Linked DNA regions of Homo sapiens. The protein of the gene in region 3 purifies or fractionates together with the protein of the main gene of each other region. This does not show direct contact. Each region holds a gene or a part of one and is shown on either strand. Other genes may lie near its edges. The genes, in order: STK39, SCN2B, AARS2, DHRS4, HPN, SIRT4 and ARMC6.

Region 1 (3,500 bases), on a different chromosome or scaffold from region 3:
GGATTCTGGGTCAGGGACCAGAAGGCTGTTCATGGCCGTTCCATGGCTGGTTCCTTTTCTGGTTACAGTATTTCTCACAAAAATTCCTAAGAGCAACCCTCCAAAGAGGGTGCAAAAAGTCTGAACTGACAAAGAAAGGAGTATGAGGCCAGGAGAAAAGGCAGAAGTGAACTGCTGAGAGAAAAAAAACACACTCTTTGAGGACCTAAATCACAGGTGGGAGGGGGAAAGAAGTATGTTGTTTCTAGACCTCTGCTTATAACCGGAAGATTCCTTCCTGTGACACTACCTGATCTTTATTTTCTTTCCTTCTTTTTCTTTTTTTATTTGAGACAGAGTCTGCCTCTGTCATATAAGCTGGAGTGCAGTGGAGCAATCACAGCTCACTGCAGCCTCAACTTCCCAGGCTCAAGCGATCCTCCCACCTCAGCCTCCCAAGTAGCTGGGACTACAAGTACGTGCCACCACGCCTGGCTAATTTTTGTATTTTTTGTAGAGATGGGGTCTTACCACGTTGCCCATGCCGGTCTTGAACTTCTGGGCTTAAGTGATCTGCCCACCTTTGGCCTCCCAAAGTGCTGGGCTTATAGGCATAAGCCACTGAGCCTGGCTGATCTTTATTTCATTTACCTGATATATTTGAGGCACTAACACTTACAATAAACAAACAGATACCTAGTACTTTGTTACCATATACAGATTAGTATCCTTGGCACTGTGAATTCATGTTTCAACACATATTAATTAGTATTCCAAACCCCTGGGTCAGTTTAAAAGCCAAAATTACCTGGGGGTTTGACATTTCTGAAGAGTTAACAAACGGCTTACCTCAGGACCTGAATTTGGCTCTAGGCTCTTTATAATTAACTAAGAGGATTGAGCTTCCCCATCAGATACAGCTGCCTGCCCCTCATTAAGAGATTCAATGTAATGAAATAGAAGAAAACAAATGCATATTTTTCCCCAGAGGAAAAAAAAACCTCTGTTTATTTGTTGACTCTTAGATTTTTGTGTCATTTAAAAAATGATAATTCCAAAAACATTTTCTTTTTATTGTATAAGGATATACCATACCAGGCATGCATGCATTTCTGTCCTGCTAAAAGAAAAATGAACAAGAGTCCACGTCTGCCCACGTCCTTACCTGTGGAAACCTGTTTAAAATCTGTTCTTACCTAAAGCCCAGAGAGGCTAAATTGGACTCAAAAAGACAAAGAAATTTTCTGTCAGATCCTCCTCAGAAAACAGAAGATTCTCAGCTTCATAAAGCAAAAGGTAAAATCTTCAGCTTGAGCAGAGCATTTGGGACTATTCAGGGTCTCAAGTCATCAGAATTTCTCATTTCCTCAGAGTTGGTGGAACCCCACAAAAAGAGAATGCCTTAAGATCATCTTGTTGGCAAAGCGCAAGTTCCTCTGCTGAATAAAGGGGCAGTCCCAGCACTCAATACTGCAGTCCAGCTCTGGCAGGCTTCCTTTTTCTTTTCCTTTTTCTTTTTTTCTTTTTAATTAAAAACTGAAGTAGGCACTCAAGGAAACAATGACTAATAAGACTGAGGAAGACTGAAAACAGAACAGAACTAAGCTCCCCAGGGCTCCCCACCGAGACCTACACAAGCAGACCCAAGCCAATTACAATGCCTTCGTCATCTCATTTTTGGGCTTCTGCTTGATCCAAGAGAGTTTCCTTTTTAAAAAAGGAAAACATTAAAACACCTCCCTCGACATCTGCAGATTAAAATAGGCTCTATCATATAAATTCTGCTATGCTAGTTTTGGGTTGTCCAGGCACAGCAAAATGTTCTCCTCTGATCCTAAACCATACTTCATGTCTCAGAAAGATACCCAGAGAATCAAGCCCTCGAAAGAGAACACACCAGAGATGTGGGTATGCTGGGTGTTCCCAAGGAAATCACTTGGGCTTTCTAAGCTTCAGTGCCCATGTCTGCAAAACGAAGGTGTAAATACTTGCAGCACAGCATACAAATTTTTAAGTCAACAGATGTTAAAGTCACAAATTCCAGCACCAACATTTACTATGTGTGTGACCTTGGGCAAGTTGCTAAACTCCCTTGAAATTTGGTGTAATTTCTGAAAAACAGGGATGGTGACACAGGCCATTCAGGGACACTGTGAAGATTAAATGGGATAAGGTCAGTAAATTGCCTTGGACAGGATCTAGCCACAGAGTAAGTGTTCAAAAAAGGCAACGGTTATCATTATCATTCCCTCTCTGATAGTGATGTTAGAAGATTAAAAGAAATAAAATACAGGATGTGAAAGCACCTTGTAAATTAAATTGTCAATGGCTTGCATCACTGCAGGGATCTGAAGCTAGAGAGAGGAAGTGACTTTCCCTTCCCAAATGCAACAATAGGATGACAATAGTGCCATTTCTGATCAACACTGCAAGTGAATATGTAGCACACATTTCTCCCCATGTCAACTGAAACCACATTTAGTGAGCACCTACTGGGCGCCAAGTTCAATGAATTCAAAGTGCATTAGACAATCTTCACAAAGTCCACAACCTAAATATGCACTGTCCAATACTGGAGCCATACAAGGTGATTTAAATGTAAGTTAATTAAAATTGAATACTCAGTCCCTCAGTCACACTAGCCACATGTCAAGTGCTTAAGAGTCACATGGGATTAGTAAAAAGTAGATAGCAGCACCTCAGAACATTTCCATCATCACAGAACATTCTGATAAATGGCACTGAGATAATTCAGCAAACTGCAATGTGTTAAGGACCTGAACAATGTTAAAAAGAAAGGACTCAAGGAGAAAGGACTGGCTAACTTTTTTGAAGAGTAAGCGGTGACTGTGGAGAGGATGTGACCTTTTAGGCCTGAGCACATGGAAAACAAAGGAGAGATGCAAGGCTGAGAAAGAGGACAGGTCAGGGGCAAAGGCATGAGAGCACATAATACATTCCGGGGGCTGCCTCTCAGCCTAGAAGGTCGGGCATTTCATACCTGGAGAAGAGGACATACACATTCTCGGAAGTTAAGCAAAATTATGAAAAGCTTTGAAGGTCAATGTGAAGCAATCTGGACGTTATCCTCTAGGCAATGAGAAACCAAACAAACTTTCAAACACAGGAGAGAAAGGATTCAATCTAAAGTCTTCTCCAATATGCTGGTTCCAACAAAAGGAGAGAAAACAAGCAAATAAATAACAACAACAAAATCCACTTACCTCCACTTAGTAATTTCATGACCAGCCAAAGTTCATCTTTGACCACAAAAGAGGTGTAATAGGTCACTACGTTGGGATGGCTGCACTGACTCATGGCTTGAATTTCTTTCTATAAAAAGAGCAAAACATGACATAGTACCATGGGGTGAAAATTGGCAAGCAAAACACAAGTGAATCACAGTTGAGTACCTGGGTAACTTTCCTACTCGAAAGCCTACCTGAGGGGCTGCCTAAGCCATTACTTCAAAGAAGGTATATAAGGACCAATTCTCTCACCCACATTATCAACTCAGATTA
Region 2 (4,159 bases), on a different chromosome or scaffold from region 3:
CCTTGGACTCCACCCACCAAGTTCTCCTACTTATGACGTTAGCTTATTTTTTCTTCCTTCTTCAAAAGAAAAGTTTTAAACATACACAAAAGAAGAGAGAACTATATGACAAACCCTTTACACCCATCACCAGCTAGTTTCAATTATCAAGCAAAACAACTAGTCTCGTGTCACCTATTCTCCCATCTCTTTTTTTCGTTGAATATATATATATGTATTTTTGAGATGGAGTCTCACTCTGTGGCCCAGGCTGGGATGTAGCGGAGTGATCTCGACTCACTGCAACCTCCGCCTCCCAGGTTCAAGCAATTCTCCTGCCTCAGTCCCCCCAAGTAGCTGGGATTACAGGCACACGCCACCACACCCGGCTAACTTTTGTATTTTTAGTAGAGACAGGGTTTCACCATGTTAGGGAGGCTGGTCTCGAACTCCTGACCTCAGGTGATCTGCCTGCCTCGGCCTCCCAAAGTGCTGGGATTACAGGTGTGAGCCACCCCGCCCGGCCACCCATGTGTGTCTTTAACAGATAGAGATGTTAAAGGACAAAACCACATTTTATCAGACCCAACAAAATTAAGAATGATTCATTAATACAATCTACTATGTAGTTCATATTTAACTTTTCCCAATTGTCTCAAAAACTTTTCTTTCCTGTTGATTTGTTTGAATCAGGTTTATCCAAAGGCCTGTGTTACATTCAATTGTAAGATCTCTTGGGTATTTTTCTATCAGCCTGCTTCAACATGTTCTGTTTTCAGAGGAAACGCTAGAATGAGGAAAGCATTACCCCTTGAAAGTCTCTCCAACTCACTTTCCTGAACCCTTTTCAATAACACAAAAACAAGCATCTCCTTTTTTTTTTTAGGTTTTTTTTTTTTTTTTCCCTCTGGAGGCAGGGCCCAGGCTGGAGTGCGGTGCAGTAGCTGGGACAAGAGGCATGCGACATTATGCCTGGCTAAATTTTGTATTTTTAGTAGAGATGGGTTTTGCCATGTTGCCCAGGCTGGTCTTGAACTCCTGGACTCAAGCAATCCATCCGGCCTCCCAAAGTGCTGGAATTACAGGTGTGAGCCACTGCGTCAGCCTGGGGGTGTTTTTAAATGATAAAAGGTGTTTCCCTTTCCAGAATCTTTAAAATAAATGGATTCCTCTAATAGCTTTCAAAATCCAACAATCATCCCAGTGAAGTCAAAAAGCAGGGTTTGTATTATTTCTTGTTTTAGAGGGTAAAAATTTCTGGGATTTTGTTCTTTTCAAAATGACTTTTTTATGCCCTCCCACCTGCTTTTTGAAATCCACCAACCACAATATTTACCCCATCCCCCTTTTCTCTCCCCCCCATCTCTCTCTCTCTCCTTTACACACTCCCTCTCTCTCTCTTTTTAGCAGCAACATACAAGCCGGCCATATTAGAGAGATGGAAATAAAGCTTCCTTAATGTTGTATATGTCTTTGAAGTACATCCGTGCATTTTTTTTTAGCATCCAACCATTCCTCCCTTGTAGTTCTCGCCCCCTCAAATCACCCTCTCCCGTAGCCCACCCGACTAACATCTCAGTCTCTGAAAATGCACAGAGATGCCTGGCTACCTCGCCCTGCCTTCAGCCTCACGGGGCTCAGTCTCTTTTTCTCTTTGGGTAAGTTAGACACATCTGCATGCTCCCGAGGGTTCAGAAGTGTAGCCGCAATGTGAAGAGGATGGGGGCAGGGGATAGGAAAGAAGACATTGCTAGCGCTTTCCCTCTGTGTCCTTGGGAGGGGAGGTGCTGGGGACTGGAAGGGACGTTGCTGGGGAGTGCAGAACCCTGGGACTACTTAGTCACAGAAATGTTGGGTCAGGGGATCTGAGTGTTGCTGGGGGCTGACAATTGTCAAGGGAGGTGAATCTTCTCTGGATTTCCCCTAAGTGGACCTACGTGGCGGTGGGGCAGAGAGTGGATTGACCTGCAGTCTCTTCAGGGATTATTTTTTGGAGTTGCTGCAAATGCGGGGTCCTGGGACTTAATGCTCCCTTAAGGGGCTTCTTTTCAGAAGCTTGATCCTGGTGGATTTAGGGTATTAGGAGAGTGTGCAGGGGAGCTGGTGGCAGAAAGTTGAGTCTGGGTCTGGCTTCTTGGCACTCGGTCTCACTGATCTGTTGGAACGTGTGTGGGAGTAGGTGGGAAGCGGGCTTGGGGAATGATGTCTGGGTTGGGAGGAGACCTGCTGAGGCACGCACTGATGGAGAAGGCACCTTTGGCTTGGGCCGGATGGAATGGAGGAAGGGCCAGGTGTAGAGATTCAGGAAAAAAATGGAACCCACAGGCTGAGCGAGGTTGCAGCCCTTTAAATCCAGCCTCAGAACTGCCCAGCCCAGTCTTGCAGACTGTCCTGTCAAGTGTTTGTATTTGACCACTCAGAGACTTCCTGGTGGGGAAGTGGGCTAGAAAGTTATTTGCAAGCCTGCTTTGTAGAGTTTCATTCTTGCTCCTAAACTTACTTATTGCTGGAGCAGCAACTGAGAGTCAAGTCCAAGGACTGTTGATGGAACTATTCCCCACCACAAAGGCTCTCTCTCTTTCTGTGGTGTGATGTGCTGGGTTTGGAGTAGGAGTGCTAAACACAGACAGTGCAGAGGCCCTGCCAGCCTGCTTTGCTGAGTTACTTGGCATATTAACATCAGAGCAGGAATGCTATGGAATCTCTGGCAGGACCTGGGTTTCAAGCCACCTTTGTCATTTACGTAATGATCACAGGCAAGTTACTCAACCCCTCTGAGCTTCAGTTCCCTCCCGGGTAAACTAAAGAATGCCTACTGCCTGACGTGTTTGTGATTTGGTGCATGGCAGGAACTCAACGATGGCTAACATAAGAATGCTTTTCGTGAGCCCAGGCACTGTGTATCTTGTTTAGCCCTCACAGCAATCGGAGGTAGATTCTATTATACTCAGGTTACAGGGAGGAAACAGATGACTATGGTAACGGGAGCTGAAATTTGAACTCCCTGTGTCTGACTTCAGCACATTCTCTTAAACGTTGGATTCCACTCCCCAATGTTCAAGAAATGGCACTGCTATATTAACAGTACCTAATTGATCAGAGTCTCAGGACAGGCTGAAAGAAGGGGAGTTGGGTGAGTGGCCTGTTGTAAGGAGGCCCAGCTGGAGGACAGGACCCTTTCCTCAGGAGTTAGGAAGCACTTCGTGCAGGAGAGAAGCCGCCTGGTGAGAGCCATGGCTAAGTAAAGATAGAAAGGGGGCTCAGTGACCAGGACCCAGAGCTCTGGGCTAGGGTGAGGAAGAGGGAGTCTGCGATGAAGAGGTCTGAGTGTTTGGGGTGGGGAGATGGTAGTGGGAGGAAGCTAAAGCTTCTGCAAAGCTGAGTGGGAGAGGATGCAGGAATGGGGACCTTGAACTTGAACTTGATTGGTGCTGTAATGAGGCATGTCCCTGGCACTCCAATGCTGAGGGCCGAGTTGACAGTGGAACTTTGGTGGTGTTGCAGTAGCATCGATCCCCAGGATGGAGGATGCCACAAGTGACGAGGGAGGGGACTCTGTCGGGGCTGGGCTTGTGGGGATGACTATGGAGGTGGCAAAGAGAAAGGGCAGGTGGGCAACCAGCTCTACCCACGGCAGAAGCATATGAGGCTAGTTTTAGCCAGAAACAATTCAAATGACTGGGCTTCCCTCAAGTTTTTCTTGAGACCGTTGACTCCACAGTCACTGGCCTGCTTACCAATGTATGGATTATGTTAGTGGAGGCATAGAAAGTGGAGTCTGGGCTGAGCATGGTGGCTCACGCCTGTATCCCAGTGCTTTGGGAGGCCGAGGTGGGAGGATCGCTTGAGGCCAGGAATTGGAGACCAGCCTGGACAACATAGCAAGACCCTGTCTCTACAAAAAAAAAAAAAAAAAAAAAAAAAAAAAGAAAAGAAAAATAAGCCAGGCATGGTGGCATGTACCTGTAGTCCTAACTGTTCCAGGAGGCTGAAGAAGGAGTATCAAGAGTTCCAGGCTGCAGTGAGCCGTGATCATGCCTCTGCACTCCAGCGTGGGCAGCAGAACCAAACCCTGTCTCTTAAAAAAAGAAAGAAAGAAAGAAAGAAAGAAAGTGAAGTCTAGTCCTCACTCTAGCCCACTGCACATATCTGCTGCTTGTGGTGGTGGGGACCCAGACAT
Region 3 (2,559 bases):
CACTCTTGAGGGTACCTTGAGTGGATGCTGGCAGGGAGGGCCACTCTGCATCGCTTCCTCTTCTGATTCTGTTCCTAGGGTGCCATGCCCACCTTCACAGCAGAGGCCTGGGCACTGGCAGTGTGCAGCCACATGGGGGGCAAGGCGTGGGGCTCACGAGTGGTGGCCCAAGGCACCGGAAGCACTACTGACCTGGAAGCTGCCCTCAGTATAGCCCAAACCTATGCCCTCAGCCAGCTCTGACCCAGGTCCGCCCAGGGACCCACATGGACTAAAGGCAATGCCAGGAGCCCTGAAGGAGCCAGCAGAACCTTCCCACATGCTGAAGCGAGGACTAGAGGCTGGAGGCCAAGCAGCTGAGCCAAAGAAGATCACCTGGGCCAGGGCCTACGTGACACAAGGAGACATGGGCTAGGGAAGGCAGAACTGGGCCCAAAGACACACACCCCCTTGGTGAAAGAGAAGACATGGACAATTATGGCTGTGACTGCACATTAGAAATTATTTCACTGGCCGGGTGTGGTGGTTCACACCTGTAATCCAAGCACTTTGGGAGGCCGAGGCAGGTAGATCATGAGGTCAGGAGATCAAAACCATCCTGGCTAACATGGTGAAACCCCATCTCTACTAAAAATACAAAAAATTAGCCGGGTGTGGTGGCACACGCCTGTAGTCCCAGCTACTCGGGAGGCTGAGGCAGAAGAATCGCTTGAACCTGGGAGGTGGAGGTTGCAGTGGGCCAAGATCGCACCACTGCACTCCAGCCTGGGTGACAGAGCGAGACTCTGTCTCAAATAATTATTTCACAGAGGATAGCAAGCTCCAGAAGGTTCTATTACCTTTAAAAAAGAGTAGTTTTGCCCCTCCCAGCAACCTAAGACCAGTCTGAACTCACACTGTCTGAAAGGCCACCCAGGATCCAAATCGGGCCATCTTCATTGCCATGAGTGTTCGGACAGGCTCTGCGTGCCAGGCAACAGTGGGCAGACAAAGGGCTCCCTGGCTACTGGGAAGATACAGAACCATCCTGTGAAAATCATTTCAGCACTGGAGACCTTCTTTGCTATTACTTCTTTCATTAACAATGACCTCTAATTTAAATTGGGCCCTGCTGGTTTGTTGATGAATTGAGCAACTGAGAACGTGGCGGGCACTAAACTGACAGTTCCTTCCTTCATGGAGCCTGCTTCATGTGGAGGAAACAGGAAATAAAGCAAAAGAAGAGGGTCAGGCTTGGTGGCTCATGCCTATAATCCTGGCATTTTAGGAGGCTGAGGTTGGAGAATCGCTTGAGGCCAGAAGTGCAAGACCAGCCTGCGCAAACAGCAAGACCCTGTCTACAAAAAAAAAAAAAAGTAATCTTTATGCCTCAGCCTCCCAGGTAGCTGAGACTACCCACACCTTGGTCCCAGCTACTTGGGAGGCTGAGGTGGGAAAATCACTTTGCCCAGGAATTCAAGGCCGCAGTGAGCTATGATTGCACCACTGCACTCCAGGCAACAGAGTGAGACCCTGTCTTAAAAAAAAGAAGGGAGAAAGTGTCAGATGGTGATGAGGTCTGGGGGGGAAATAGAGAATGGGGATCAGGAGTGTGGATGGTGATATTCCCTCACCAAGAGGTGACATGTGAGCAGGGAGCTGGGAGGTGAGGGTGTGACCCGTGTGGAAATCAGGGAAAAGCATTCCAGCCTGAGGGAACAGCCAATGCAGAGGCCGTGAGGTGGCCAGTGCCACTGAGCAGTGAGCTGGGATAGGGGCAGGTGAGGAGGCTGGAGAGCGGGGTCAGACAAACAATATGCTTATTAAAACAAGTTGTACAGCACCTGCCTCAAGCCTGAGCTGAAGCTGAAAATTGGCACTTCAAAGCAGGAGGAAGCAGAGATGGAGGAAAGCCCTCCTTCCCTACCAGAATGAGTCCACCTCAGACAGCCAGACTTTGGACCTCTGCCTTTGTTCCTAGATCTCTGTTGCTAGATGAAGGAAAGGGCCTCAGGGGATCCATCTTCAAATCAAGGGCTCCCTGGCTACCAAATTCTGTCTAGTAAAAATTATTCGAGCAGCGTGGGCCCGCCTGGCATCATTTTCTGCAGTTTCTCATTCTAATTAAGGCACTGATGATTTGCTGGTAAGGCACTGCTGAGGGCTTGAAGGGACCCAATCCCGGGTGCCTGGCCCCTCACTGCTTGCAAAGCAGCATCCTGGCCACTGGGGCAGTAGCCTGTTTAGCAGTGCTCACCACAGGCCCAGGTTCAAGCTCCTCCGCGAGCGCCAAGATGAGTTTTGGCACCCCTGATTTATTGATGAGTTAACAGAGCTTCGAGATGTTCATCCAGGGTAACCAACTAGTAGTCCTCGGCAGAGCTGAAGTCAAAGCTACCCTTTGAAAGCCCCGCCACCCTGGCTGCCTCTCCCTTCCTGAAGGCCAATTTCTTTTTTTTTACTAGCCGTCCCTCTGGTCTGTCCCTCTCGCCCTCCAGGAGATCTGGGGCCCCAACCACATCTTGTCGCGCCAGGGCTGGAAGAGAGTTTGGCACAGGGCATGGACTGTGTGAAGGAGCG
Region 4 (3,005 bases), on a different chromosome or scaffold from region 3:
TCTTTCACTTCCTATTTTTTTCTAGCTCCCAGCTCTCCCCACTGCCCTCATCTGTTTCATTTGTTTCAGGTTCTAGTGATGCATTTTGCTGCGTCTCTCCAATTCTCATCCATGTAAGGAGGGAGGAAACAGTGTGAGTACAGTCTGAATACCTCAGTCTCCAGCCTATACCTCAGAAAAGGTGTGATAAGAGTGTGGCTTGTATAGGGCAGGTGGTACAGAGAGGGAATATGGGAAAGTCCAGGGAAGGAGAATGGAGTGGCTGAGAGCTCAGGACTCAGGTAGTGGGCTTCCCTGTCCAAGAAGATGGATGCCTTTCAAGGGGTCCCAGTCAAATGCAAAGCTCCCCTTCCTCACCATCCTGCTGAAGCTAGTCTTGATAAGTCCAGGTGCTAGGCAGTTCACCCTAATGTTCCTTGGGGCCAGCTCTATGGCCAGGGTCTTGGTCAGGCCCAGCAAGGCTGTTTTACTGACATTGTAAGGACTGAAGCCCTGGAGAAAGAAGAGAATGTGTTAGACTCATAGTTTCCAGGTCATTCTTGGTTCTAATAACTAGACATAGAGGGCAGTGCTCAATAGGGATCTCCTGTAAGGGAGGGGCAGAGTTAGGGAACTGTCTTGTGGCTAAACCTCCCCTAGGTTGTGGTTTGTGGAGGCAAGGCATCTATTTTGTGGGCAGGGACTTGGTGGTGTGATTCTACAAGGGGACACAAACTTCCTTGGGTAATAGGAGGGGTGGAAAGATGTGGAGTGGAGGGTGGGATGGAAGAGGTAGACAAAAGGGTTCTTACAGGAGATGGACTGAAGGCTGCTATGGAAGACACGATCACCACTGAGCCGCCTCTGGAAAAAGAAGAGAGCTGACCATCTTCCCATTGTGGACCAGTGCCCTCAGCCCGTGTGGTGTCCCCTCTCACCCAGGCTCTCTCTCACTCTCTGTACCCTCGTTTCTCCATTTCTGGCACCACTGCCTTTGTCATCAGGGCTGGGGCCTTCACATTAATGTCCAGAGTCTGAAGCCAAGAGAAGAAGGGGAAACAGCATGAGTGAAGAGCACTGGAGGAGGCATGAAAAAATGAGGAGTTAGAGTGGGTTCCTAGGATGTTTGTCAGAGCTGACGAAGATCTTAGGATGATATACCTGCATCTTACACATGAAGGAACTGAGGTTCAGGGAGAAGTAGCTCTCACCAGCTGCTCAGCTAGATATTGATACATTAGGTTCAGGTGAGCAAAAATGGAGCCTGGTTCATCTTGTTTCATAATCAGCCAAGTATGATTTGGGCCAGAAGGGGCCTTTGGATTTGAGCTGTGTTTTCTCTGTTTCTTCCAAGTAGGTAGAGCCTGGAATTGTCAGCCTCCTGGACCTGCCCTAGACTACCTGCCCTAGAGTAGGCCATGCTTCTCAGGGAAAATGTGGCCTGACCTTGGATATGTGGGGTTGTTCTAGCACTTCTCTGGCTTCTGGGCTTAGGGAGTGAGATGTTCTTGGCCCTCTAGGAAGGACTGTCTGGCTAGGCATGGTTAGAAAGTGGGATCATGAGGAGTCACCTTCTGGGGAAGCTGGGGGACAGGCTACAATCAGAATCCCCACATCCATAATCTAAAACAAATGTATGACCCTGTTTACACTGTTCTAGACAACTGCTTATATTAAAATATTTCAATCTTACAGAAAAATTGGAGATAGAAGTACAATGAATGTCTAGATATCCTTCACTTAGATTCACCAATTGTTCACATTTTGTCCTATTTGTCCTCTCTGTAGATCTGTACAGTTTTTTAAATGAACCATTGAAACTCAGTTGCAAGTTTTCTGAAAGATTTTATATAATAAAATCAAAAATTACAAAGAACAAAAATAAAAAAATGTAAATTAAAAAAAAAAAACAAACTCAGGGCTGGGCATGGTGGCTCATGCCTGCAATCCCTGCACTTCGGGAGGCCAAGATGGGTGGATCACTTTTAGGTCAGGAGTTCGAGAACAGCCTGGGCAACATGGCAAACCTCGTCTGTACTAAAAATACAAAAATTAGCCAGACGTGGTGGCATGTGTTTGTAATCCAAGCTACTCAGGAGGATGAGACAGCAGAATAGCTTGAACCCGGGAGGTGGAGGTTGCAGTGAGCTGAGATAGCACCACTGCACTCCAGCCTGGGTAACAGAGTGAGGCTCCATCACAAAAATAAATAAATAACCTAAAATAAAATAAGTAAACTCAGTTGCAGATAGTACAATGTTCTATCCCCAAATACTTAGCATACATTTCCAAAGAGTAAGGATTTTCTTTTACACAACCATAATCTGTTATCACAACCAAGAGTTTGACAATGATGATAATTTTATCTAACATATTGGCCTCAATTATCCCCCAAATGTGTGTGTGTGTTTTTTAAAGTCCAGAGTTCAATCAAGGATCAGCCATTATGTTTGGATTTGTCATACTGTGATAGTTTAAAAAATATACAAATTAAAAGAAAAGTTATAGACACATATTTTCTTATGCTTTGCAGATATTGTGTTTTTTTTTTTTTTTTTTTTTTTTTTTTTTTTTTACAAATTGCAGTTTCGTGGCAACCCTGCATTAATTCGAGCCATTTTTCCAATTGCATGTGCTCACTTTGTCTCTGGGTCACATTTTGGTAATTCTTGGAATATTTCAGACCTTTCCATTATTATTGTATCTGTTACGGTGATCTGTGATGAGTGATCTTTCATGGTTTTATTATAATTGTTTTGGGGTACCACAAACCACACCCAGAAAAGAAGGTCAACTTAATCGAAAAATGTTGTGTGTTCTGACTGCTCTGCCCTTCTCTCATCTCTCTCCCTCTCTGTGGGCCTCCATATTCCCTGAGACACATTTACATTGAAATTAGGCCAACTATTAACCCTACAATGGCTTGTAAGTGTTTAAGCAAAAGGAAGAGTCACACATCTTTCACTTTAAATCAAAAGCTAGAAACAATTAAGCTTAGTGAGGAAGGCATGTTGAAAGCTGAGGCA
Region 5 (3,500 bases), on a different chromosome or scaffold from region 3:
CAATCTCCCATCCCCACCTCCCACCCTGCCACCATCAATCAACTTTCTATCTCTACCGATGTGCCTATTCTAGACATTTCTTTTCTTTCTTTCCTTTTCTTTTCTTCTTTTCTTCCTTCCTTCCTTTCTTTTCTTTCTCTTTCTTTCTTTCTTCTTTTTTTAACAGACAAGGTTTTGCTCTGTTACCCAGGCTGGAGTACAGTGGCACAATCCTAGCCCACTGCAGCCTCAAACTCCTGGGCTCAAGTGATCCTCCTGCCTTAGCCTCCTGAGTAACTGGAACTACAGGTATCCGTCACCACACCTAGCTCATTTTTTTAAGTGATGGGGTCTTGCTATGTTGCCCAGGCTGGTCTTAAACTCCTGAGCACAAACAATCCTCCCATCTCAGCTGCCCAGAGTGCCAGGATTACAGGCGTGAGCCACCGTGCCCAGCCTTGTACATTTCATACAAGTGGCATCCTACAGTATGTGGCCTTTGCGGCTGGCTTGTCTCATTCAGCACTGTTCTCAAGTTTCATCCTTGTGGTAGCATGAATCAGTACCTCATTCATTTCTATGGTCCAATATTCTCCCGTTGTGTGGATATACCACATTTTTTTTGTTATTTATTTATTTATTTTCAAGATGACAGAGCCTTGCTCTGTCAGCCAGGCTGGAGTGCAGTGGTGTGATCTCGGCTCACTGCAATCTCCACCTCCCGGGTTCAAGAGATTCTCCTGCCTCATCCTCCCGAGTAGCTGGGATTACAGGCGTGTGCCACCACGCCAGGCTAATTTTTGTATTTTTAGTAGAGATGGAGTTTCACCATGTTGGCCAGGCTAATTTTTGTATTTTTAGTAGAGATGGAGTTTCACCATGTTGGCCAGGCTAATTTTTGTATTTTTAGTAGAGATGGAGTTTCACCATGTTGGCCAGGCTGGTTTCAAACTCCTGACCTCGTGATCCACCCACCTCGGCCTCCCAAAGTGCTGGGATTACAGGCATGAGCCACCGCGCCCGGTCAATATACCACATTTTCTTTATGCATTTGTCCGATGAAACAGTCTTGGGCTGTTTCCATCTTTGGGCTATTATGAATAATGCTGCTATGAACACTGATGTACGAGTTTTGGTGCAGACACAGTTTCCATTTGTCTTAGGTATATACCTCCTGTCCTGGGAGTGGAAGTGTTGGGTCCAATGGTAACTTTATGTATACTTCTTGGGGAAATGCTGGCAAATTTTCCAAATTGGCTGCACTGATCATTGATAGTTAAGGCCCACTTTGTGCTCCCTCGAGATCATTCCCCTTATTGCCAAGGATGCCTGAGCCATAAGTTGATTGCCTTGTGCCCCTGGTCCCCTCCTCTGTCCTCCTGGCCTCGGGTCCTCAAGCCCCATGGCTCAGCCCTTAGACTTACCTGTGAGGGGCAGGGGACTGGAGAGGTGGACCAGGGCAATATCGTTGCTGTTCTCCTCGCTGTTGGGGTCCCGAAAGGGAAGATAGCCCCCGTGGTAGACCACAGCCTGCACCCCCAGCTGCAGACCGTGGGGAGAGGCCTGGGCCACGGCACCGGCAAACACTCGCCATCGGGACAGGACCCGGTTCCGCCTACCAGGGAAAGGGGTGGAGGGTGGCCACCTGCCTGGGCACAATCCGCCCTCCTCCCCACTGTCTCTCCGCTCCTCTGCCTCCCCATCATCAGCGCCATTGGGGGGCACTCACTCCGGGAAGCAGTGGGCGGCTGTCAGCACCCAGTCCCCGGAGAGCAGGGATCCCCCACAGAGGTGTGCTCCATCATAGCGAAGGCTGACTTGCCACGGCCACCGGCCCAAGCTGGTGTCCCGGCCTCCCACGATGCGGTCCACGGGCAGCTTCCTGCGGCCACAGTCTGTGGGACAAGGGTCAGCAGGGGGCGGCGACAGGGGACTGGAGCCCAGGTCCCCAGAGCCCAGGCTTGGCCCTGCCCTAGGGGGTCTGAAAGTACATGGCCCCATCCTGGGGAGCTTGAGGGGACGTGGCCTCCCCAAGGGCCTAAAGGAGAGGGTTCTGAGTTTTAGGATCTCACCTTGGCAGATGGCGGCCAAGAAACGGCCTCTGGGGCAATCACTGGGAGAGATGGGATTGGAGACACAGAAAGAAAGGAAATAGAGACCAGTTAAGACAGGTGGAAGGAAAACGGGGAGAGGGAGTGCCTTGGGGGTCTGAGGTGTTGCCCCACCTGCCCGCTGCCCTCCTCACCACACGGAGATGACCTCCAGCAGCCTCTGGGTGTGGGGCAGCCTCCCCTCGTCCACACAGAAGAAGCCCGACGTGCCATTGGCGCCCGCCGTTCGCACGTCCAGCTCGGAGTGGGTCAGTGCCCTGGGCGGGGCAGGGGTTAGGCCTGCTCCCCAGCCCCTCCCGGCTCCCACCCCTCCGAGGGCCCCCAGTACCTGAGGAAGCCCATCTCCTCGCAGCTGAGTCCGGCTACCCTGGCGTTGGAGCGCGAGGAGCACAGCAGCCGCCACGTCCCTTCCGTCTTGTCAAAGACCATGAGCCGAGCGTCCGCAGAGCTGACCTGCACTGCAGGGCGACAGGGCCCGGGGCCGCCTGGGTCCCACAGCCAGGCTCCCCACATGCTTCCCCAGCCGGAGCCCCTCCTGGCCTGTGCTCCAGCCATGTGGTGTAGACGTGAACCCCAGCCCATCGGAGGGTTGCAGCCCCCACATCTGCGATTGCATCTGGAATCATGACTCAAGGACTTTTTTTTTTTAAAGACAGGGTCTCGCTCTGTTGCCCAGGCTGGAGTGTAGTGGTGTGATCTTGGCTCACTGTAGCCTTGACCTCCCAGACTCAAGAAATCCTCCTACCTCAACCTCCTGAGTAGCTAGGACCACAGGCGTGCACCACCACACCTGACTAATTTTTTTGTTTGTTTGTTTTGTTTTGTTTTGTTTTGTAGAGACGGGTCTTGCTATGTTGCCCAGGCTGGTCTTGAACTCCTAGGCTCAAGCAATCTTCCTGCCTCTGCCTCCTAAAATGCTGGGATTACAGGTGGGATTACAGAGCACCATGGCACTCTGCCAGACTCAAGGACTCAGGTCGGACCAATCAACAGCAGCCTTGAGGCTGTGGCCGGCCCCTCCGCGAACCAGGGGAACTTCACTCTCCATTAGAAGTCCTAAGTTGGCTGCTCAGGAGCTGCAGGTCTGGAAGGTGACTTGGACATTCGGGAAGAAAAAAAACCATTTAACCAAGTTCCCAAGAGAATCCAGCACTTGAGGCTGGATCTGTTAAGGGTCATGTTCACCCTCTTGAGGGAAAAAGTGAGCTAACGTGGAGGAGAGTCAAGAGATTTCTGATAACATTTTATTTTATTATTGTATTTTTTGTGGAGAAACCGAAGCTCTTTATTAGTATGTTTGTCATTTGTCTTTTTCCATTTGTCTTTGGTCACACCCTTAACTCATATAAAAAGACCTCTCACTTTATACGTACACAGACAGCATATGGAAAATAGAAGAACAAATTTGTT
Region 6 (3,500 bases), on a different chromosome or scaffold from region 3:
GGTCTTTCAGGCTGACCTCCCTGACCTGCTCTTTTTAATCCTGTTTAGCCTTCCTCAAATGCTATTTTTATCATGTTGCTTGCTTGCTCAGAAACCACTAATAAACCCCTTTGGTGTCTCACAGCAGACCCAACTGCACTGCCTGATTTTCAAATGTAACCATGATTTGGGCCTAACTTTCCCAGACAATCTGGTTTCTGCAAGTCCCAGGTCCAAACCTCTACAGAGGCCAGGCCAGACTCCTCTGGGATCTACAACTTCCCTTCATTTGGAAAGCCCTGTTTCCCGCTCTTGCCTAGACAAACCTGAGCCAATCTCAAGCCCCCTGTACCCATAAAAGCTTTCTTGGGGCAGGCGCTGTGGCTCACGCCTGTAATCCCAGCGCTTTGGGAGGCCGAGGCAGGCGGATCACGAGGTCAGGAGTGAGTTCGAGACCAGCCTGGCCAACATGATGAAACCCTACCTCTACTACAAATACAAAAAATTAGCTGGGGGTGGTGGCAGGCACCTGTAATCCCAACTACTTGGGAGGCTGAGGCAGGAGAATCACTTGAACCCAGGAGGCGGAGGTTGCAGTGAGCCGAGACCGTGCCACTGCACTCCAGCCTGGGCAACAAGAACAAGACTGTGTTTCAAAAAAAAAAAAAAAAAAAAAGCTTTCTTGGGCCAGGCATGGTGGCTCACACCTGTAATCCCAACACTTTGGAAGATCAAGGCAGGAGGAGGGCTTGAGCTTAGGAGTTCGAGACCAGACTAGGCAACACAGCAAGATCCTGTCTCTATTTAAAAAAAAAAATTTTTTTTTTAAAAAGCTTTCTCAACTGATTATTCCAATCTTTACTAAATCTGTTTATTTGAACATGCACAGCATATAAATCAAGAACCACACAATTTCACAATCATGCGTTGTCATTTATCATTAATTATGTGCTTTTCTTTGTTTGTTTGCTTGGTTGTTTTTTGAGAAGGAGTTTCGTTCTTGTTGCCCAGGCTGGAGTGCAATGGTGCGATTTCAGCTCATTACAACCTCTGCCTCCCGGGTTCAAATGATTCTCCTGTCTCAGCCTCCTGAGTAGCTGGGATTATAGGCATGCACCACCATGCCTGGCTAATTTTGTATTTTTAGTAGAGACAGGGTTTCACTGTGTTGGTCAGGCTGGTCTTGAACTCCTGACCTCAGGTGATCCCCTGCCTCGGCCTCCCAAAGTGCTCGGATTACAGGCGTGAGCCACCGTGCCCGGCCAATTATGTTATTTTTGTGTCTTCCCAAATATTACAAAGTTCTTGCATATAAAGTGGGCCATGTTTTATACTTTGGTTTTTGTTTGTTGTTTGAGACAATCTCCCTCTGTCGCCCAGGCTGGAGTGCAATGGCACGATCTTGGCTCACTGCAACCTCTGCCACCCATGTTCATGCAATTCTCCTGCCTCAGCCTCCCGAGTAGCTGGGACTATAGGCGCCCGCCACCACGCCTGGCCAATCTTTTATTTTTAGTAGAGACTGGGTTTCGACATATTGGCCAGGCTGGTCTCAAACTCCTGAGCTCAAGTGATCCGCCCCCTCAGCCTCTCAAAATGCTGGGATTATAGGTGTGAGCCACTGAGCCCAGCCTATACTTTGGTTCTGACCACTAAGAAGCACAGTAGTTAGTGTTATAATGTACTACATAGTGTAACGTATGTACACCATACATTCTAGGCACCCAGTAAATATTTCAGCATTGGCAGACTGACTTCAGCCCTCAGAGGAGCCTCTCTAGGGCTTAAAGAAATAAGTCTCCAATTAGCTACAATTATTGCCAGACCCATAAGCATGATACCCTCCCATGTATCTGTTCCCTCATTATTGATTGAGTTCTGACTACTGCCCGGCTACGTTATGGTCTATGTATCTAGCCATCCTAGGCATTGGAAACCCAGCAGTTTATAGCACATGCTATTGGTGTTCAGCTCATATTTTCCTCAGAACATGCTAAAGGCCACGTTCGAACAGTTTCCTTTCTTTTTGTTTTTTTATTGAGATAGAGTCTCACTCTGTTGTCCAGGCTGGAGTGCAGTGGCACAATCTTGGCTCACTGCAACCTCTGCCTCCCAGGTTCAGGCGACTCTCGTGCCTCAGCCTCCCAAATAGCTGAGACTACAGGCGTGCGCCACTATGCCCAGGTAATTTTTTGTATTTTTAGTAGAGATGGGGTTTCACCGTGTGGGCCAGGATGGTCTCGAACTCCTGACCTCAAGTGATCTGCCTGCCTCTGCCTCCCAAAGTGCTGGGATTACAAGCATGAGCCACCGCACCCGTCCCAGTTTCCTTTCTCTGTTTTTTTGTTTGTTTTTTTTTTTGACGGAGTTTTGTTCTTGTTGCCCAGGCTGCAGGCTGGAGTACAATGGCACAATCTCGGCTCACCGCAACCTCCGCCTCTTGGGTTCAAGCTATTCTCCTGTCTAAGCCTCCCGAGTCGCTAGGATTACAGGCATGCACCACCACGCCCAGCTAATTTTGTATTTTTAGTAGAGACAGGGTTTCTCCATGTTGGTCAGGCTGGTCTCGAACTCCTGACCTCAGGTGATCCGCCCAACTCAGCCTCCCAAAGTGCTGGGATTACAGGCGCGAGCCACCGTGCCCAGCCAATTTCCTTTCTTAAAAAAATTTTTTGTAGAGACGGAGTCTGGCTGTGTTACCCAGGCAGGTCTTGATCTCCTGGCCTCAAGTAATCCTCCTGCTTCAGCCTCCTGAGTTGCTGGGATGACAGATATGAACCACAGCACCCTGGTGGACACAATTTTCTTTCTTTCTTTTTTTTTTTTTTTTGAGACGGAGTCTCGCTCTGTCACCCAGGCTGGAGTGCAGTGGCGCGATCTCGGCTCACCACAAGCTCCACCTCCCAGGTTCACGCCATTCTCCTGCCTCAGCCTCCCGAGTAGCTGGGACTACAGGCGTCCGCCACCGCGCCCAGCTAATTTTTTGTATTTTTAGTAGAGACGGGGTTTCACCATGTTAGCCAGGATGGTCTCGATCAACTGACCTCGTGATCCGCCTGCCTCAGCCTCCCAAAGTGTTGGGATTACAGGCGTGAGCCGCCGCGCCCAGCCTACACAATTTTCTTACAAGCAGTTTCCTGTGTCTCTCTTGCCTCAGATGTTCTCTGCCCACGGAAGCCTCCTTGGGAGGAGCAGAGTCAAAATGTTAGGGAATTAATTCCCCTAGAGTGATCCTGGACCCATGAGGGATGAGAGATGGTGAATAAATACCCTAGCTTCAAGGCCAAGCACAGTGGCTCACACTAGTCATCCCAGCACTTTGAGATGCCAAGGCAGGAGGATCACATGAGCCCAGGAGTTCGAGACCAGCCTGGGCAACATAGTAAGACTTCGTCTCTACAAAAAATAAAAATTAAATTAAAAATTAGCTGGGCACGGTGGCGTTTGCCTGTAGTCCCAGCTACTTAGGAGGCTGGGGTGAAAGGATCACTTGAGCCCAAGAGATTGAGGCTGAAGTGAGC
Region 7 (3,500 bases), on a different chromosome or scaffold from region 3:
AAGAATACATACAAATGGCCACTAATACATGAAAAGATGCTCAATGTCACTAATCATTAGGAAAAATGCAATTCAAACCTACAGAGAAGCCAGGCGTGGTGGCTCATGCCTGTAATCCCAGCATTTTGGGAGGCCAAGGCAGGAGGATCACTTGATCCCAGGAGTTCAAGACTCGCCTGGGCAACATACGGAGCATTCATCTCAAAAAAGAAAATCAAACAGAATTACTGTGTGACCCATCAGTTCCACTTCTGGGGATACACTCAAGAGAACTGAAAGCACAGTCTCAAAGAGATACCTGTACACCCATGTTCATAGCAGCATGATTCATCAGAGCCAAGAGGTTGGAGGTTGCAGGGAGCTGAGCTCGTGCCATTGCACTCCAGCCTGGGCGACAGAGAGAGACTCTGTCTCCAAAAAGAAAAACAAACAAACAAAAAAACACTACAATGACAACAAAGAAATTCAGGCACATAGTATGCTATGGATATACCTTGAGGACATTACGCTAAGTGAAATAAGACAGTCACCAAAAGACAAATACTGTGATTCCATTTATTTAAAAAAAATTTTTTTTTTTAGATGGAGTCTTCCTCTGTCACCCAGGCTGGAGTGGAGTGGTACCATCTCAGCTCACTGCAACCTCCACCTCCTGGGTTCAAACAATCCTCCCGCTTCAGCCTCCTGAGCAGCTGGGACTACAGGCATGTGCCACCACGCCCGGATAATTTTTGTATTTTTAGTGGAGACAGGGTTTCACCATGTTGGCCAGGCTGGTCTCTAACTCCTGACCTCAAAGTGATCTGCCCACCTCAGCCTCCCAAAATGCTGGGATTACAGGCATAAGCCAGGGTGGCCAGCCTGTGATTCCATTTATATGAGGTCCTGGAGTAGTCAAATTTGCAGCAACAGAAGGTAGAATGATGGTTGCTAGAGGCTGAGGGGAAGAGGAACATGGAGTTTGTTTCAGTATCGCAAGTCATGGATAGTCATGATGGTTGCACAACATTATGAATGTACTTAATGACACTGAACTCTACATTTAAAAATGGTTACAATGGTAAATGTTTTTATGCACATTTTACATAACAAACAGCGGTGTAGCACTTCAGCAGAAACCCTGTAAGAAACTTGAAAAGCTCCTGACAGAAATGCCTTTGAGGATGCACAGTATTGGAGTTAGAACTACCAAGATTTCACAAGGAATTACTAAGTTAGCAAGGATGTGTAAACTAAAAATAAAATTCTTGGCCGGGCATGGTGGCTCATGCCTGTAATCTCTTCACTTTGGGAGGCCAAGGCAGGTGTATCGCTTTGAGCTCAGGAGTTCAAGACCAGCCTGGGCAACGTGGTAAAACCCTGTCTCTAAAAAAAATACAAAAATTAGCCAGATGTTGGTGGCTCACACCATGTAGTCAGCTACATGGGAGGCTGAGGCTGAAGAATTGCTTGAGCCCGGGAAGCAGAGGTTTCAGTGAGCTAAGATCACACCACTGCACTCTAGCTGGGGAGACCCTGTCTCAAAAAAAAAAAAAAAAAAAAATCTAAGTCCTCATCCATACTAAGGACCCCTCCTCTTGGCCAAAGGTATTCCAAAGGTAACCTGAAAAACTACTTCAGGTCATGATGGGAAGTGGCGGTCAAATATGTCTCATTTTATCTTCCTGCCTTTGGAAGTCAGACATAACTGATCATCGTAAGACTTTTTTGTAGCAATAAGACACCAAGTTCCAGCCTAACTAATACAGTATGGAAAGAAATCAAAGTATTTTACCCTAAAATATATTTCTCTGACATATTTTGAAATGGCCCTGCAAAGCTATCTCTTGTGGGGAAAAGCTACATTCTACAGAGATTCCCTTTCCAGGTCTTTTCCCTGATTCAGGAGAGAATTAACTAAGAGTCTGGCACCTTTTTAAGTCTGATAAGAAATATTTACAATCTATTTTCTCTGAAGCCTGCTACCTGGAGGCTTCCTTGATAAACCCTTGATCTCCACAACCCGTCTTAAGCAAAATATTCCTTTCTATTGATTCTAGGTCTTTAGATAACTCTTTCAATCAGAAAATCTTTTTTTTTTTTTTCTGAGTCTCATTCTGTTGCCCAGGCTGGAGTACAGTGGCATGATCTCGGCTTACTGCAACCTCCGCCTCCTGGATTCAAGTGATTCTCCCGCCTTAGCCTCCCAAGTAGCTGGGATTATAAGCACCCACTACCATGCCCAGCTAATTTTTGTTTTTTGTTTTTTGTTTTTTTGAGATGCAATTTCGCTCTTGTTACCAAGGCTGGAGTGCAATGGTGCAATCTTGGCTCACTGCAACCTCTGCCTCCCGGGTTCAAGCAATTCTCCTACCTCAGCCTCCTGAGTAGCTGGAGTTACAGGCACCTGCCACCATGCCCGGTTAATTTTTGTATTTTTAGTAGAGACGGGGTTTCATCATGTTGGCCAGGCTGGTCTCGAACACCTGACCTCAGGTGATCCACCTGCCTGGGCTCCCAAAGTGCTGGGATTACAGGTGTGAGCCACCACACGTGGCCTAATTTTTGTATTTTTTGTAGAGATGGGTTTTGCCATGTTGGCCAGGCTGGTCCCAAACTCCTCAGCTCGATGCAATCCGACCACCTCAGCCTCCCAAAATGCTGAAATTACAGACGTGAGCCACAGCACCTGGCCAGAAAAATCTTTAAATGTGTCTATGACCTGGAAGCCCCGGCTTTCAGCTGCCCTACTTTTCCAGACCACACCAATGTACGTCTCACATGTATTGATTGATATCTCATGTCTCCCTAAAACGTATAAAACCAAGCTGTAGCCCGACCACCTTGGACACATGTTCTCAGGAGCTCCCGAGGCTGTGTCATGGGCCTTTGGTCACTCATATTTGGTTCCGAATAAATCTCTTGAAATATTTTATAGAGTATTTTCATTGACAGATGGTTGCTAAAATGCAGGTGGCAGAGCCAGCTGTGTTCTACCTATGACAATTTTCTGTGGCGCTCACCACCTTGCTCATGGAGGGGGGCTTTACCCATTGACTCCTGGAGTCATTCAGTCTCTGTGACTAATGCCTTTCATTCTACAACTTCCCACATATAAATGTGGCCTGGCTGGCTCAGTTTTTCCCTGGACAGTCTCCAGACATTATTTTCCTTCTGTTTCTACAAGCCTGTTTGCAACAAATCTTATGACACAAACAGATTAATTTCAACGACCATCACAATGTTGAATTTTTTTCTCCCTCAACAGATAAGCATTTTTTACACATCTAAGCCAAGATGCACAAAGGTCAATTATGCTGCAGGGCATTTGAGAAGGGGGTTGGTTCAGTTGCGAACTGACCGCTGAGATGCAAACCCCAGTGTCTGGTGGGAGGGACAAGGCAGGGACTTTCAGATTTTACTATAAATGCTTGAGTATTGCTTGAATCCTTTATGCTAAGAATGTATTTCCACTCTTCCTTAATGAAAAATAAAATTTAAAATTAGCCAGGCATGGTGGC

Evidence for each region.
Region 1: the proteins of AARS2 (region 3) and STK39 fractionate together in Homo sapiens (co-fractionation; one large-scale study listed by BioGRID). This does not show direct contact.
Region 2: the proteins of AARS2 (region 3) and SCN2B purify together in Homo sapiens (co-immunoprecipitation; one large-scale study listed by IntAct). This does not show direct contact.
Region 4: the proteins of AARS2 (region 3) and DHRS4 purify together in Homo sapiens (co-immunoprecipitation; one large-scale study listed by IntAct). This does not show direct contact.
Region 5: the proteins of AARS2 (region 3) and HPN purify together in Homo sapiens (co-immunoprecipitation; one large-scale study listed by IntAct). This does not show direct contact.
Region 6: the proteins of AARS2 (region 3) and SIRT4 purify together in Homo sapiens (co-immunoprecipitation; one large-scale study listed by IntAct). This does not show direct contact.
Region 7: the proteins of AARS2 (region 3) and ARMC6 purify together in Homo sapiens (co-immunoprecipitation; one large-scale study listed by IntAct). This does not show direct contact.

The regions. Positions count from the first base shown.
Region 1 is NC_000002.12:168,164,096-168,167,595, forward strand, and holds part of STK39 (STE20/SPS1-related proline-alanine-rich protein kinase), read right to left. Parts: intron 3,313-3,500; coding exon 3,204-3,312; intron 1-3,203. UniProt on the Homo sapiens protein: Effector serine/threonine-protein kinase component of the WNK-SPAK/OSR1 kinase cascade, which is involved in various processes, such as ion transport, response to hypertonic stress and blood pressure.
Region 2 is NC_000011.10:118,173,840-118,177,998, reverse strand, and holds the start of SCN2B (sodium channel regulatory subunit beta-2 precursor), read left to right. Parts: upstream 1-1,359; 5' UTR 1,360-1,567; coding exon 1,568-1,637; intron 1,638-4,159. UniProt on the Homo sapiens protein: Regulatory subunit of multiple voltage-gated sodium (Nav) channels directly mediating the depolarization of excitable membranes.
Region 3 is NC_000006.12:44,298,231-44,300,789, reverse strand, and holds the end of AARS2 (alanine--tRNA ligase, mitochondrial), read left to right. Parts: intron 1-78; coding exon 79-243; 3' UTR 244-2,059; downstream 2,060-2,559. UniProt on the Homo sapiens protein: Catalyzes the attachment of alanine to tRNA(Ala) in a two-step reaction: alanine is first activated by ATP to form Ala-AMP and then transferred to the acceptor end of tRNA(Ala). Also edits incorrectly charged tRNA(Ala) via its editing domain.
Region 4 is NC_000014.9:23,963,770-23,966,774, reverse strand, and holds part of DHRS4 (dehydrogenase/reductase SDR family member 4), read right to left. Parts: intron 2,198-3,005; coding exon of another isoform or gene 2,177-2,197; exon of another isoform or gene 1,014-2,176; coding exon 943-1,013; exon of another isoform or gene 844-942; coding exon 792-843; exon of another isoform or gene 493-791; coding exon 358-492; exon of another isoform or gene 70-357; intron 1-69. UniProt on the Homo sapiens protein: NADPH-dependent oxidoreductase which catalyzes the reduction of a variety of compounds bearing carbonyl groups including ketosteroids, alpha-dicarbonyl compounds, aldehydes, aromatic ketones and quinones.
Region 5 is NC_000019.10:35,058,721-35,062,220, reverse strand, and holds part of HPN (serine protease hepsin precursor), read right to left. Parts: intron 3,163-3,500; exon of another isoform or gene 2,549-3,162; coding exon 2,419-2,548; intron 2,348-2,418; coding exon 2,225-2,347; intron 2,093-2,224; coding exon 2,052-2,092; intron 1,875-2,051; coding exon 1,709-1,874; intron 1,595-1,708; coding exon 1,404-1,594; intron 1-1,403. UniProt on the Homo sapiens protein: Serine protease that cleaves extracellular substrates, and contributes to the proteolytic processing of growth factors, such as HGF and MST1/HGFL. Plays a role in cell growth and maintenance of cell morphology.
Region 6 is NC_000012.12:120,305,321-120,308,820, reverse strand, and holds part of SIRT4 (NAD-dependent protein lipoamidase sirtuin-4, mitochondrial), read right to left. Parts: intron 1-3,500. UniProt on the Homo sapiens protein: Acts as a NAD-dependent protein lipoamidase, biotinylase, deacetylase and ADP-ribosyl transferase. Catalyzes more efficiently removal of lipoyl- and biotinyl- than acetyl-lysine modifications.
Region 7 is NC_000019.10:19,047,103-19,050,602, reverse strand, and holds part of ARMC6 (armadillo repeat-containing protein 6), read right to left. Parts: intron 1-3,500.